2 linked regions of the Homo sapiens genome follow. The protein of the gene in region 2 interacts with the protein of the main gene of each other region in a biochemical or structural test. Each region holds a gene or a part of one and is shown on either strand. Other genes may lie near its edges.

What was found. The genes of interacting proteins can lie anywhere in the genome.
Region 1: the proteins of DNAAF5 (region 2) and PFKL form a complex in vitro, tested with the Homo sapiens proteins (one study listed by BioGRID).

What each region holds. Positions count from the first base shown.
Region 1 is NC_000021.9:44,316,587-44,324,293, reverse strand, and holds part of PFKL (ATP-dependent 6-phosphofructokinase, liver type), read right to left. Parts: intron 5,825-7,707; coding exon 5,699-5,824; intron 4,944-5,698; coding exon 4,879-4,943; intron 4,211-4,878; coding exon 4,147-4,210; intron 2,566-4,146; coding exon 2,419-2,565; intron 2,162-2,418; coding exon 2,091-2,161; intron 1,333-2,090; coding exon 1,245-1,332; intron 529-1,244; coding exon 376-528; intron 1-375. UniProt on the Homo sapiens protein: Catalyzes the phosphorylation of D-fructose 6-phosphate to fructose 1,6-bisphosphate by ATP, the first committing step of glycolysis.
Region 2 is NC_000007.14:757,355-765,061, reverse strand, and holds part of DNAAF5 (dynein axonemal assembly factor 5), read right to left. Parts: intron 3,310-7,707; coding exon 3,166-3,309; intron 1,257-3,165; coding exon 1,088-1,256; intron 1-1,087. UniProt on the Homo sapiens protein: Cytoplasmic protein involved in the delivery of the dynein machinery to the motile cilium.

The sequences.
Region 1 (7,707 bases), on a different chromosome or scaffold from region 2:
CACCCCCCAGGGCACAGTGGACAGCAGCCTGCACACACACTGGCTGTGAGTGGGCAGGGGTGTCCCTGGCACCCTTGGACAGAGGCCAGGCGCTGCTCTTAGACTACCCAGCACTGGGGCGCAGGGACATTCCCGCCTCAGTCTCCCCATCTGAGCTCATCACAGTAGCGAGGAACAACGCAGGGCCCCCCTGGACCTGGAAGTGGCTATGGCAGGGAGCTGAGCCCCTTCACCCGGGCCTGTGCCCCACAAACCCCAACCCTGGCAGCCCTCCCAGGTGCTCACCACACACTATCCCCTCCAGCAGCCTCCGTAGGCTCAGCCCCACCCCACAAGGGCCTGGGCATGGCAGGCCGGTGTCCAGGAGCCCCGTACCTCCATGGCGGCATTTACAGCAGTGTCGGAGCCCAGGCTGAAGTCGGTGCCAGGGACGTTGTTGCTGATGGTGGCTGGGATGACACACATGACGATGCAGAGCTCCTCGTAGCGCCCGCGAGCCTCCACCAGCTGCAGCACCCCTTCATAGGCCTGCAGCAGTAGGGACGGGGCAGGTCAAGGGCAGCACCGAGGCCAGGGTGGGCCGGGGACAGGCTCTGCCGGCGGCCGCCCAGCCCTGCTCCCTGCTGACCTGTCATGTGCCCCGTGCTGGACGCCAGGACCCACCTGCTCAATCCCCTGGGGCTGGGCCAGGCAGTCAGCCTGGTGTCATCTCAGGATGCCTACCAGGGAAACTGGACTCTAAGGAGGGTCAGGAGTCTCCTCCAACCCACTCTGACCCCAGATCCACTCCATGGAGGGCAAGGGGGAAGGGCTGTCATTTATTCATTATTTAGTGACAGCTTGCCCAGTGCCAGGACACCACGTTCAGCGATGCCGTCCAGCACCTACACCTCTGCCTCCTCCGCCTCCCTTCTTTCTCGTCCTCCAGCTTCCGAGTCCCCTTCCTCCCCTGCCCCTCCCCAGCACTGGGGTTAATCGGAACCTTGTGAAGCTTTCCGGAGAAAGTAAAGAACCCTCCCGAGCCCACACACAGCACTTAAAACCCCAACCCTCTCGGCCCCTGCATCAGCCCAGCTGGCACACGGGTGCCCTCCCGAGCCCACACACAGCACTTAAAACCCCGACCCTCTCGGCCCCTGCATCGGCCCAGCCAGCACACGGGTTTTCAGGATGGGCCCCCTCGGCGGGAGGACACCTTGGGTCTCCTGTGCCCTGGGGCTTTTTCGTCCGTGGGCAGCTCTCACCTCAAACCCACCGACCACCAGCAGGGCGTGAATACCATAGATGCGGATGTTCTCCACAATGGACTCCAGCTGGCCCTTGGGCAGGGTCCTGCAGTCAAAGACACATCCGCATGAACACGCAGCACCCGGGGACGCGTGTCCAGATTGCATCTGATCACAGAAAGGCATTGCCTTGGCCGTTCCCCGAGCCAGTCAGCAGTCGCTGCAATGCCCGGGATGTGGCGCTGTGGCTCCACACGGAGAGGGACACACAGGCCCAGCGTGAGCCGCCTGGGCACCACTCAGCATCACCAGGCACCGGCCAGGCAACCGAGTGAACCCCCCACCCCGCTGGGCTCCCCGTGGGAACCCCTTCCTGCCCGAGGCTTTCTCGCCCAACACTCAGCGGCAGGAGCGGATGCTTCCTCTGGCCCTTGCAGCCACTCAGTGGCTCAGGACTCAGCAACTTCCCCTGTAGTCACACAGGGGGACTGTGCCCACCCCATGCCCACAGAAGGGTCTCAGGCCCTGGGACAAAAGCCATCAGACAGGCCCATAGCCTCAGCCAGAGTGCTGACAGTGCAGGCTGCCTGGCCTGGCCAGGCAGGGACAGACGCTCGCCAGCTTCCTTGCCACGGAGAGCCCACCATGGGCATGGGGCCGCCAGAGCAGCCTGCCCTACACAGCGGAGCTCAGGCCAGGAAGCCCCAGGCAGGAGGCGTGAAGCCTGCTCTGGGCAGACCACCAGCAGGAAGAGGGGCCGAGCCCAGGGCCCCGGGCTGGGTTCCCCTTGCCGCCCCCACCTGCAGGGCCTGGATACTGCGCCCTGGCCCTCCTGCCCCCAGGTACCCGCAGCAGGCAGCTCACCTCTTGGTCCCCAGCATGGAGCCACCACGCCCCAACCAGCCGGCCACGTCGTGCCAGCCTACTTCTTGCACCTGCCAGGAGGAGATGCAGCTTCAGGGGCCAGCCTGAGCCTCTGGCCAATTCCCCCCAGGGGTGGGCCTGTGCCCGGGGGCCAGCCAGTGTTGGGCATCACGCTGCAGGCAGAGCTGAGTACCCAGGCCCGGGTGGGCACCGACACGCGGACCCAGGTCTCAGCCTCCACCTCCAGCAGCCGGCCTTCCACAGGAAATGCCCCAAGTGTGCACACAGAAGGCCCAAGTCCTCACTTGTTTGCCCCGGCCGGACCCACCTGACCCTTGGCTAGGCCTTCGAAGCCATCGTGCACCACGTATACTGTGTGTCCATGGGAGATGCCGGTCCGCACCGCCGAGCGCACGGCCGCATTCATGCCAGCCGCCGGGGCCCCCACATTCAGGATGGCCAGGGAGAAGTTAGACTTCAGAGAGAAGGGGAGATGAGCGTGAGGCACAGCCGGGGAGGGGACCCCCAACCTGCACAGGAGGTCAGCAGGCCGGCAGGTTCTGGAAAAAGGGGCCAGGCCCTGCCAGCAGCCTGGACGCTGCCCAGCACACCGCCCAACTGCCCTGGGAATACGGTATCTGTTCTAATTCCAGAAGATTCTGGTGAAGACCAAAAGAGACACGGTGCAAGCCTGGCCCCCTGGCACGCAGGCAACAGAGGAGGCAGAAGGGGCGAGCACTGTTGTGAAGCCAGGCTTGCGGGCGGGAACACAGGTCAGTGCCCACACAAGGGGCTGGCAGCGGGCGGGAGGGTGGGGGGTGCACAGCCACGAGTAAGGAAGGGGCCCTGGCTATCCTGTTTTCTAGTAGCCACGTTAAGGGAAGGGAAAAGACATGGAGACAGTCCCATCAGGACTACAGTTAATTTAACCTGATGGACCCAAAACCCCACCACATCCATGTGAATCCAGTGACGGCCGCCACCACCTCCCCTCCACCCACCGTGCTGAGGCTCTGAACCTGGCGTGCACCTGTCACGTGCAGCACATCCCACTTGGCAGCAGCCACACCCAAGGGCTCCATAGCCACATGGCCCCACTGGGTCCTGGTACGAGCCAGCCCTGCTGCCCACAAAGCCAGTCACGCCCCTGCCAGGTTCTGGGTTCGTGGAGACCAGGTTGCCCCACCACGGAGGGTAGAGCCCGCTGACTAGCTCTGGGGATAAGCAGGAGGCTGGAGCAGCAGGGACACCCAAAGATGTCCATGGAAGGGAGGACCAGACTCAGGCTGGGCCACGCTGTCTGCCCCGGCCTGCAGCTCCGGCTGTGGCTCAAGGGGCTTGGGAGCCAGGACCTCACTGGCCGTGACTCTCTCTACAGGACCCTCGTCCCCCAGGACTTTAGAAACAAGCCATTTCATCCTTATTTTGGAGAGATCCCATTTCCTGAGGTTTTCAGCTGTTTGGGAACATTTTATTTTCAGAGTTTCACTCTTGCCGCCCGGGCTGGAGTGCAATGGCACGATCTCGGCTCACTGCACCCTCCACCTCCCAAGTTCAAGCTATTCTCCTGCCTCAGCCTCCTGAGTAGCTGTGATTACAGGCATGTGCCACCACCACGCCCAGCTAATTTTTGTATTTTTAGTAGAGACGGAGTTTCACCATGTTGGCCAGGCTGGTCTCGAACTCCTGACCTCAGGTGAACTGGCCACCTCAGCCTTCCAAAGTGCTGGGATTACAGGTGTGAGCCTGGCCCCGGGGGACATTTTCTACACAATGGCTTCTCCTCTCCTGAGTTAAGCCTGTGGCCTGACTTCATTTCCATCCACCACTGAGAAGCAACAGCCAGCCCTGCAGCCAGGGTCCCAGCACCCGGGACCTGCCAGCCACAGTGGTGCCTGAGCCCAGGCAGAGGTCAGGCCCACCCTCCCAGCTCACAGCTCGGACCCCAGCAGGAGGGAAGGTGGGGGCAGGCAGGCCCAGCCACGGGGCCAGCGTGAAGAGGCTGCAGAATAACTGAGCCCGTTCCTCCCTCTGTGGGCGCCGCTCCCTGCCTCACCTTCTCCTTGGGGGGCTTCTGGTGGGCGAGGAGCTTGTAAATGTTCCAGTTGTTCTCGAAGCTCCTGGAAGGGATTCGGGTCACACCATGCACAGCCCTGCAGCGCCACGGCGTACAGCCACAGCGCAGCCGTGACAGAGCCCAGGAGGCTGGTCACAGGCACACGGCCCGATGGAAGCTCAGCCATGAGGCAGCAGACACCGCGCATGCCAGGCAGGGCACCTTCCACAGAAGGTGCGAGACCCCCAACACAACACGAGGCCACGCCAGCCCGTGCAGCAAAGCACGTGGCCGGCATCCAGCTCAAGGGAGGGTTGGCCACCTTGGTAGCGGGTGGAGGCACGCATGGGAACCCAGACGTCCAATCCAGCCTGACCCGGCCGCCAGGACGCCTGCAGGGGGGTGGTACCCACACCCAACATCTGCCAGCCTTCCCAGCCCCCGCGGGGCCACCCCATGTCCTGGGCTTGTATCCACAGCTTCTCATCCCCTCGCCATGCCCAGATCCCTGTGCACTGGGCCCTGCCCGTGCCACCGCCCAGGGTCTCCTGTGGTACCACACCTCCCAGCCCGCCTCCTGTACCACCCGCAGGCCCCTTCCTCCCTCGATCTTCAGACGCGGTGCCTAGAAGGATGACCCAGGCCAGGCGTGCATAGCGCCACTGCAGCACATGCTGCCTGGCACCGGGACCCAGCCATGTAAGAGTGCAGGGGTCTGCTGAGGGGGCTTACCCACCACGGAGCTGGGTGGCCTCGTCAAACCTCTTGTCATCCATGGCTTTCTGCACTTCCTTGGTCTTAAGGAAGAGAAACAGAACACAGACTATGGAGAGCCTGGCCCGCACACCCATGGCTACTGCCCTGTCTGGTGGGCCTGACGAGGGCAGATCTGGCCGGCATCTCCTGACCCTGGCCCAGGCCTGGCAGCCTCTCCCTAGGAACAGCGGTCACCACCAAGGCCAGCTCTTCTGGGGCTGGCTGAGACCAGGAGGCCCTACCCTGCCCCCAGCTGCCCTCCTCACCTCTCAGCAGCTCCAGCTCCAGGCAGGGCACTCTGCCCCAGTTGCAGGCCTCCAAACCCACCGAGCCAGGGCTGGACCAGCCCCCACACCCGGCCCCCTCGCCTCTGCCTTCCCCGTACCTCCTCTCCTGGGGTCCCTGCTCCAGCCACCCCAGTGTTCCCCATCACCTGCCTGAGCTCCTCCCAGGGCTCTGCTCTGATCACTGGCCCCTCCTCCTCCGTCCCATCGTAACCCCAACTCCCACCACTGCCTACAGAAGCTCAGTGGCCGTGGACCCCTGTGACTTCCCATGCTCACCAGGCTCCCTGCAGCTCCGACACACCTCCTGGGGAACGTCCCAGGTCCCACGTCCCACCCAGGGATGTGCTCACATCCCTCCCCTCCCTGGAGACCTGGGATGCCCTGGGCCAGCCACGAGGCCCTGCCCTCCGGTGCTCACAGTGCTGGGGCCCCCAGAGAGCAGTGGGGCCTGTGAGTGGGGACTGGGGAGAGGGGCCAGGCGGTTCTGATGGGGGGGGCCCAGGGCTTACCATCTGCACGCACTCCATGAGGGGCAGCCGCACTGACTGGTTCCCCGAGAGGGTGACCACGCAGGCCGGCGTGTCAGGCGTGGCTTCCAGCAGCGCCATCACCGCCTCCATGCCCATCTTGCTGCTCTGTGGGGAAGGGTTCAGGCTGGCACACCCACTTGGTCCCTCTACCCCAAGCCACATGCCCATCCTCTGTAGATGTGCAAACCCCAGCTTCCAGAGCCCCCCACGCTGACGGAAGCTTCCAGAACAGGTGGCATCAGAGATGGAAACGTGTCTGACCAGCATTCACGACGGCACACCAGACACCATTTCACAGAGTCCTCGCTGCCCTGCTGGAAGGCCCAGCCTGCACTGCTGGCTGCAGGGTGCCATGCAATGCGACCCACCCACCGTCGCTCGCTGCCATCGCTAGGCGCGCAAGGCAAGGGCGGGAGCCAGGTCCCCAGGGCCCCATCCGCTGCGATGGATCCTCCCGTGGAGGCCCTCATGTCGTGACTTCCCTGGTGTGTGTCCGCACCGGCCAAAGGGCTGGGCAGAGGACACATCCAGGAGCTGCCCCCCAGGGACACACTGCAAAGGCAGGCCCCAGCCCCACCCCGGGAACCGGCCACAGTGGACAAGAAAGCCAGGCCTGCGGTTGCCGTGGCCGTCCCATGACCACCAGTGGCCAGCCCTGTAGAAGCCCAGCAGCTGGACCCCCGGGGCCACAGACAGCCCTCCGTGTTCCACACAGGTTTTTTCATCTTGCAAGTGAGGCACAGGCGGCACCTTATTCTGGGCAGTCTCTCCAGGACGCTGTTTAGGGAGCAGCCTCGGAGACACCCCCCATGCAGGATGAGGCTCCTTGGAAAAGTGCAGGTTACCACTGCACGTGCTAGGGTCCCCTGGCCCCTTCGCAGCACCCAGTGGGAATACGGGCTCAGGGAGCACAAGAATGCTGACGCTCTGGGTGACAGCCGCGGCTAGGGGCGATCAACTGTCCTTTGTTTCACACCCGGCATCAGGCATCCAAGACACTGGCTGGAAAACCCAGCAGCCTGCAGGCTGGGAGTGCATGGCTGGCCCGGTCACAGCAGCGGCATTTCCATCACCCCAGGCTCAGCAGCGGCTGGCTTGCCCTGATGTCCCCGGCCCCTCAAGAGGCTCTTCAGAGTGAGCCTGAGGCCTCACAGAGGGGACAGCAGCTGCCTGGCTAGGTCGGCGGGGCCCCTCTCTGAGGAAGCCTCCCCTCTATAGAGTGGCCCTCGTCCAGCTGTGTGGGTTCCCTGGGAATGCTCGGCTCAGCACACGAGTCACAGGGCCAGGTGCAGTCACAGGGCTGGGCGCAGTCACCTGGTCTCCCTCAGCACAAGTCCCACCTGTCTGACAGTCTCTGGCCCTGCCTGAGAGGGTGACCACCCTCATACACAGGCATTTTGCCTACCATGGTGCCTTCCTGGCCCCAGACCCACTCCATTTGGCTCCAACTTCATTCCCATTTTGCAGAGGACAAAGTGAGACCCAGCGGTGATCAGGACCAAGGACGGCGAGGCCAGGCCAGACCCCGAATGCTCCCTCCCAGCACCAGCCTCCCAGACTGTGACGCCACAGGCGCCATGGGCACCACCCTCTGCCCACCCAGCCCCTCTCCCAGGGCCTGCCCCTGGCCCTGACTGCTGCCACGTTGGGCTGGCAGAGGGTGGGGGTCAGAACAGCCAGGAGGCACAGGCTGGTGGGGGGCCTCCCATGGTCCCCAGGTCTGAGTTCCCTATACCTGCAGGGGAACGGAGAAGCCAGGCCTCAGTCTCCCCCAGGAGGAGCAACAGCTTGAGGGAACACCCACACACACCCACACTGACACACACCCACACACACTGCCACACACACCCACACGGACCAGACACACACAGACACACCCACAAGGACCACGCGTCCCCCACACATACACCCCCACACACAGACACGGACACTCACCCACAGCCACATGGACACAGTGCACGTGCCATGCTCGCGTGCACACTGCCCAC
Region 2 (7,707 bases):
GAAGCTTCGAACTCCTGGGCTCCAGGGATCCTCCCGCTTCAGCTTCCTGAGTAGCTGGGGCCACAGGCGCACACCACCACGCCTGGCTAACTGTATTTTATTTATTTTTAAATTTTAGATTCAGAGGTGCACGTGCGGTTTTTTTCATCTTTTTGTAGAGATGAGCTCTTGCCGTGTTGGCCAGGCTGGTCTCGAACTCCTGAGCTCAAGTGATCCTCCCACTTCAGCCTCCCAAAGTGCTGGGATTACAGGCGTGAGCCACCACGCCCAGCCAGTATTTTCTTTTCTAATTTGGAAACAGTTTTGAATGCAACTGACAAAGAACAATTTTGGGTATTTTTCCAAGTCTCAGGAAAAAAAAGGTGAGTCCCTACCAGGCACAGAGATTGTGTAAGAACGATCTTAGCATCCTCAGATGCAGAGCACGACCACCCTGGTGCACACATCCAACAGGAGGCGGGGGCACTCGGAGCTGCAGGCGGGAGCGGGAGGGCCGGGGAGGCAAACGAGGAAGAGCTACCGCGGCGAGTTCACGGCCCGTGGAGCAGCGCGGGCCGTGTGTCCCAAGGCACTATGGCTGCTGAGCGGACGTCTCCTTAGGGTTCTGCAGTGGATCTTGCCCCGCGCTGAAGCCCCACTGGGCCACACTGTCCATCCCAGGAAAAGTGGCTGATCCGCAGGCTCAAAGAGAACCACAGAAATGCTGGTCTCAGAGGGGCTGGGGCTAAGGCCCCCATGTCACACACACAGCACCCATGCGGCTAGACATCTAGATTCTGCAACAAAATCCAGACGTATTTAAGAAGCCAGGCTACAAAACAGGCCACGGAAAAGCACACTTTGAAGGTTTCACATGAAAGCGTGTGCCCGGGCCAAGTGGAAGAGCTGCGTCCCACAGTCTTCAATGCGATGCTCCTTAAAATGCTGCTTCTCCCCAGGCAAGAGTGACTATTGGGTACTTTTAACAACACGCTTCAGTGAACCACAGCTCAGCTGGTCGGCGCTGGTACCTGCTGAGCACCTGGGGGAGCAGGTGTGTAGCCTGAGTGGGGCCAGGCACGGCACGCCAGCTGTCGGGACGGCTCACCTGACTGTGCGACGATGACACTGAACTGCAGGAGCTCCGGCGAGTGTGCGGTCCAGTCAAGGTGCGACGCGGTCACCCGCTCCAGGAGGGGACCAATGTGCTTGCGGTAGAGGTCCTGGCAGCTGCTGACACCCTCCACCATGGCCAGTGAGTCCATCGTCTCCTGTGCCTGGAGGTTACAAGTCAGAGACTGAGACAATTCCAACACTCAGGGCTCAAGCCTGCCTGCCTGCTGGGACTCACTATCCCCCTCACGCGTAAGAACCACACAGGCCGGGCCTGCCAGGATAATCGGGAGGGAGGCTGCCACAGGGAGCCCCGCCCAGGGTGCAGGAGAGCGAGAGCCGCGGGTGCAGGGCGAGACCCTGATCCCGTTCACACCAACGCCGTCTCTGCAGCGAATCATGAAGCAGGCACTGTGCACACTGGGATGCACACAGCACAGGTGGTCCTGGGGCTTACACGGACGTGGTGTCCGCCTGGGCAGGCAGGGCTCCTCTGAGGTGGTGAGGAGCAGAGAGGGGCGGGCAAGTGGCTTAAAGAGTTAAGCCCAGCAGACCAGACCTCCAGGTAAAAGTAACTGGGCAGACAGAGATGATAACCTTGGCCACCTTTTACTTTTAGCTGGCTGCTCTCCTTGGGGGCTTAGGAACAGAGGAAGGGCTGAGGCTCCCCGGTGGCCATTGCCCCAAGCCTGGAGTCTGAATCTGGGGCTACCTGGCTTCGTCCCCCATGACCAGCAGGCAAAGACTTTGCTTTTGCTGGTACCTCAGGCCCTAACAGTGACAGCATCTGCTGAGACACACGCCCCTTGGGAAGCTTGTTTTTAGAGGCCCCAAGAAGGAAGGGGAGGGCAGCAGCCTCCTCCACACCAGGTTCCCCATAGTACATTCAGGCCGTAAATCTCCCAGAGAGAGAATCTGCCGAGAGGGGCTGTCCACAGAGACAGAATGGGAGGAGGAACTAAGTCTCAGCTTCCAGAGAGGCAGACAGATACTGGGGCCTCCAGGGGCCCTAGAAGCCCATTAGAAGGTTGGGGTTAAAAGATTTTTGGGCATAATGGCCAGGTGCGGTGGCTCATGCCTATGATCCCAGCCCTTTGGGAGGCTGAGGCAGGTGGATCACCTGCAGTCAGGAGCTTGAGACCAACCTGGCCAACGTGGCAAAACCTTGTCTCTACTAAAAATATAAAAATTAGCCGGGTATGGTGGTGGGCGCCTGTAATCCCGGCTACTCAGGAGGCTGAGGCAGGAGAATCACTTGAACCTGGGAGGCAGAAGTTGCAGTGAGCCGAGATCGCGCCACTGCACTCCAGCCTGGGTGACAGAGCGAGACTCCACTGAAGAAAAAAGATGATTTTTGGGCATAAACAGGGAGCCCATGGGCGAGAAGTACTTCTGAACGCTGTGCTGCAATGAGAGCGGGAAATCACGGTATCTTCTCTCGACTCAGTCACACATGCACATGCACTTTTTTTTTTTTTTGGACGGAGTCTCGCTCTGTTGCTCAGCCCAGGCTGGAGTGCAGTGGCACGATCTTGGCTCACTGCAACCTCTGCTTCCCTGGTTCAAGCAATTTTCCTGCCTCAGCCTCCTGAGTAGCTGGGACTACAGGCACATGCCAACACGCCTGGCTAATTTTTTGTATTTTTAGTAGAGACGGGGTTTCACCATGTTGGTCAGGCTGGTCTCAAACTCCTGACCTCAGGTGATCCGCCCACCTCGGCCTCCCAAAGTGCTGGGATTACAGGCGTGAGATGCCACGCCCAGCGACATGTGCACTATTAAACCCTACTCAAGTGCGCAGGTTTAAAGGTTACGTCTTATTTCTTGTTTGCTTCTTTGCTGAAGACCCTAACATTAAACAGCTGTCTCCACTCCCTGATGCCAGAATACACTGGCAGCTGGAGAGCTGCCCCGAAGGCCGTTGCCCGGGGACTCACCCGCAAGGTTCTCAATCCCTGGTCTTTGCTGGTCAAGCACAGAGGGGATGCATAGGAGACAGTTCACCTCACTTAGAGATGCCTTCCAGCTGTGAGCTCCGCTAGGTCAAGCAGCAGCCACCACTGTCAGCCTTACCTTGTCCCTCAGGCCGGTAGCACCTGCGAGGGCCACTATTGTCAGCAGCACGTCCAAGAGCTGCAGGCTGGCCACGCCACAGTCCTCATGACACACAGACACCAGAGCCTGCACACACAGCAGCAGGCGCTCCAGGTAGAGGTCCTGGAAGAGACCGGCAGCACCGTCAGAGCTTGGTACAATTTGGTCGTGTCCCCACCCGAATCCCATCTTGAACTGTAGCTCCCATAATCCCCACGTATCCTGGGAGGGACCCTGTGGGAGGGAACTGAATCATGGGGGTGGGTCTTTCCCGTGCTGTTCTCTTGATATTAAGTCTCACGAGATCTGATGTTAGTATAAAGGGCAGTTCCCCTGCACACTCTCTCGCCTGCCGCCACGTAAGACGTGACTTTGCTCCTCCTTTGCCTTCCACCATGATGGTGAGGCCTGCACAGCCATGTGGAACTTTGAGTCCATTAAGCCTCTTTTTCTTTATAAATTACCCAGTCTGTGGTAGATCTTTATTAGCGACATGAGAATGGACTAATACAGGGCTCCCGCTCCGGCCCCAGTGTCAGGGCCGACAGAGCCCGCCCGGGGCTCCTAGTCTACGGCTCACGAGGGGCAGCAGCCATGGGAGAGCCCTTGCAGGGAGAGCCCCCAGGCGCTGGAGGTAGGGTGCCGGCATGTCAACCATAAAAGGGCGTGCTTGTTGATGGGAAAACTGAACACAGACTGGGAGCTAAGGAATCTGTGCTTATTTTGTGAAATGTGAACAGGCACTTGAGCTATGTGGTGGAGAAGCTGCGTTAGTGATGCACACGGCACCTGTGAGGGAAATGACGGCGCACTGCATTATCTGCTTTACAACATGCCCAAGTTCTCCCCGCCCTCCAAAGTTAAAAAGAAAAGTGGCCCCAGGCAGGCAGAACACGCATGCCAAGGGCTGGTCAGCGCTGAAGCTGGCAGTCGCTCTGCTGCCTGCCCCTCTTCTGTGCATTTTTGAGCTTTTCTATAACACCAAGTTTTAAGACAAATAAAATTCTATGGCTTAACATGTTTACTGATTGACGGGGAGGTGGAGTCTCAGCTCTGCACCTACGGCTGCGCTGGATGAATGGCTTCCCCTCCCGGCTCCAGCCTCATCCACTGTGAATCAGCCAGGCTCTGAAGCCCGCAACACAGCAGGCGTGTGCTGGACCCAAGAATTCCTAAGGCTTTGCGTGTGCTTACTTCTTTCTAAATAAATTTTAACTTATTTTTTAGAGACAGGGTCTTGCTCTGTCGCCCAGGCTGGAGTGCAGTGGTGCAATCGTGGCTAACTGCAGTCTCAAACTCCTAGCCTTAAGTGATCCTCCTGCCGTGGCCTCTCAAAGTGCTGGGATCATAGATAAGAACCACCACGCCTGGCCTGTATTTACTTCTTATAACGTCCCTCTAATGTCTATTTTATGTATGTTTCATAAAGTACAGAGTGAGTCAGGACCGTGGCCATGTAATTTAAACACGTGATTTATCAACAGTGTACATATATTGGAGGCCTATGCTTAAAAACTGTTTTTACTAATGGGGGTGCAAGTTCAAAGAAGTTTGGTAATTATTTGGCTAGACAATGGGTTGGTTCTAAATTTCCTAATCAGCTCTAAAACTCTAAGCCTCATTCCCCACTGACGTAAATCATGGAAGACTAAACAAAACACTCCCACTGTACTACAGCAGCGTTCTGTCCTTGCACCCCGGCCCCGCCCTGACCCACAGAAGACACAGAGCTGCATGGCTCCATCTCCCTCGGAGCTGGAGGAGCCGCGCGGCCCCGTCTCCCTCAGAGCTGGAGGAGCCGCGCGGCCCCGTCTCCCTCGGAGCTGGAGGAGCCGTGTGGCCCTGTCGTGGCCCCAACTCCCACAGAAGCCACAGATTTGTTTTTATTCCATTCCTGATTTTTCCCACAGCCCAATTTCTCTAAGGCCTGTACTAACTGGCTGACTTCTGAGGACAATATCTGGCTAGTTTCTAGAATGACCTGTCATGTACATTTCAGGAGCGATCATCTTTTCGGTTAAAATCAAAAGGCAGGTGCGTTTAGAAGACACAGCCCCTCCTGGCTGACCACACCTCCAAGCACAGGAACAAACAGGGAATCAGGCATCCTTTGCAGCAAGCACCACCCTCCTGCCACGAACGCAGCACCGTCTCTGAGGAAGTGACAAGACTTCACATTTATAGATTTCTCTATATTTGACCAGACAATTTTCAGTGTCTGCCTACATACAACGCACACACACAGAACGAAAAAGAAAAAAGATACAGCAGGAAATAATTCTCAGTATTTTTTGAAATACTATTTCAAACATTGTTTTCTGAAACAATGTTATCTAAGACTGCAAAGGTTTTTAATTCAGAAAAGCACAAGAGACTCCTATTTCAACAATGGCAATGGCATCCCACAACTGCTGGCTTCCCTGTGTGAGAAGCAAATCGGTGAGTTACCCATTTCCTCACTCTAGACACCTGTCCTAAACTCCTTCCCAGGAGACTCCAGTTCCCGTCTGTCGAGCTCTAGGGGACCTACTGGGCCCGAGACACCTGGAAGTACCTACTGCTAAAGCCAGATTTCCTGTGAACCCCAGGGCAGGGAGTGAAGCCAGGCTCAGTTTAGAATACATTTACACGGACTTCTCTGTTTAAACACGAGCTTTTAAAACAATTTCGGTTTGTTCTTGAAAGACATTTTCAACCTGTTCTCATAGCTACTGGAGAATAGCTGTGGGAAACATAATCGACTTCCCAAATGACATGACACAAAGCCCGGCCGGCCGCGGGAAGAGCACAGGGGCGTGGGAAGAGCACAGAACCACGGGCCTGATTCTGACTGAGACCTGAGTACCTTCACCCTTTCTTGCCAAAAATTTAAGTCTGTTAAGGAGTAAAATGGGGCCAGGTGCGGTGGCTCACACCTGTAATCCCAGCACTTTGGGAGGCCGAGGTGGGCTGATCACTTGAAGTCAGGAGTTCAAGACCAGCCTGGCCAACATGGAGAAACCCCGTCTCTACTAAAAACACAAAAATTAGCCGGGTGTGGTGGTGCATGCCTGTAATCCCAGCTACTTGGGAGGCTGAGGCAGGAGAATCGCTTGAACCTGGGAGGCGGAGGCTGCAGTGAGCCAAGATTGCGCCACTGCATTCTAGCCTGGGTGACAGAGCAAGACTCTGTCCCAAAAAGTAAATAAATAAAAATAAATAAAAAAAAATTACCCAGGTGTGGTGGTGCACACCTGTAGTCCCAGTGACTCAGGAGGCTGAGGTGGGAGGATCAACCTAAAACAAAAAAATAAAAACAAGAAAGGAGTGAAATGTACGTCTTGGGTTTTCACTGTGACTGGCTCCTTGGCCAAAGGGCCGACACACGTTCGCAGCCTGGAAGGTTGAGGCTGGCTTCCCAGGGGTCCCGTGTGACTGGACTTTGTCAGAAAGACGTCTCTGTTTGAAAGATTGTGATTAAATTTTTCCTCGATAAAACTGGAAGATGGGGAGCCAAATGCACAACTGTGGGATGACACAATTCCGTTTTCCTGTAACCAACATGGAGATGTGAAAACTACACTTTCTTTGCTATAAAGTTTGTGAGATAAGGATTTAGGCACCTGTGCACATTTTCAAGTTATGCCCTTCTAGGAAAAAATGCTTCTGGCTTGCAAATCTGTATACAGAAATCAAAGGCATCCTCATAACCCCTCGTGGGTGAAGGAAAGTGGAGAACTGACACACATTCGATGATGTGTTAAAAACGGGTTTTGGGAAAAGCTGAAGCATGGCTGAAATGCCATGAGCACGCGGCCCGGGCCCCTCCCCCGCTCCCTTCCTTACCCCAGCTCCGTTTCCTTCCCTCTATGTATTCCAGGAACTGCTTACAGGTTTCTTAAAACAGTTTACAAAAATGACTGTCAACAGCCCCACCTCTCGTTCTGAGGACGGAGAGGGAGCCTGACACAGGACAGGCCGGGCTGAGAGCACAGTGGCAAGTCCCCGTGCCCCAGGCCAGCTTTGGGGCCATAGAAGCCGCCGGAAACGATCGAGCCGGAGCAAGTGCCTCCAGGGGTGAGCTGAGGCCCGCCCTGCATGGCACGGCCGCCTGGTGGGGGCAGCCCTGTGTCCCAGAAATATCTGGGGTGCTGAGTCCAACACACACACTGACAGGGACCACTCACCTTCAAATGAAAGCAAAGCCATCACCTCTTCTTCCATGGAATACAACTATGGATTATTCCAAACAATTGAGCCCAACTACCCAGGCTGTTCCAGCTTCTGAGCTCAAGGATTTGCTGCTCAATTTAAAATTAAACAAATGTCTCTGGCAAATCCTCAGCTGGGCTGTGAGAAGCACAGATCGGAACGCCAGGCAGGGCTGATGGGGAACAGGCTGTCAGTGCCCCCTGAGGACGTGCGATCTGTGCAGGTACCCTGGGGACTGGATGGGATGGTGGACGTGCGACCACGCTCCTCAGGGGTGGGATGACGTGGACCCCACATCTACCCCCAGCAGCATGGGCCAGAGGGTCCCGG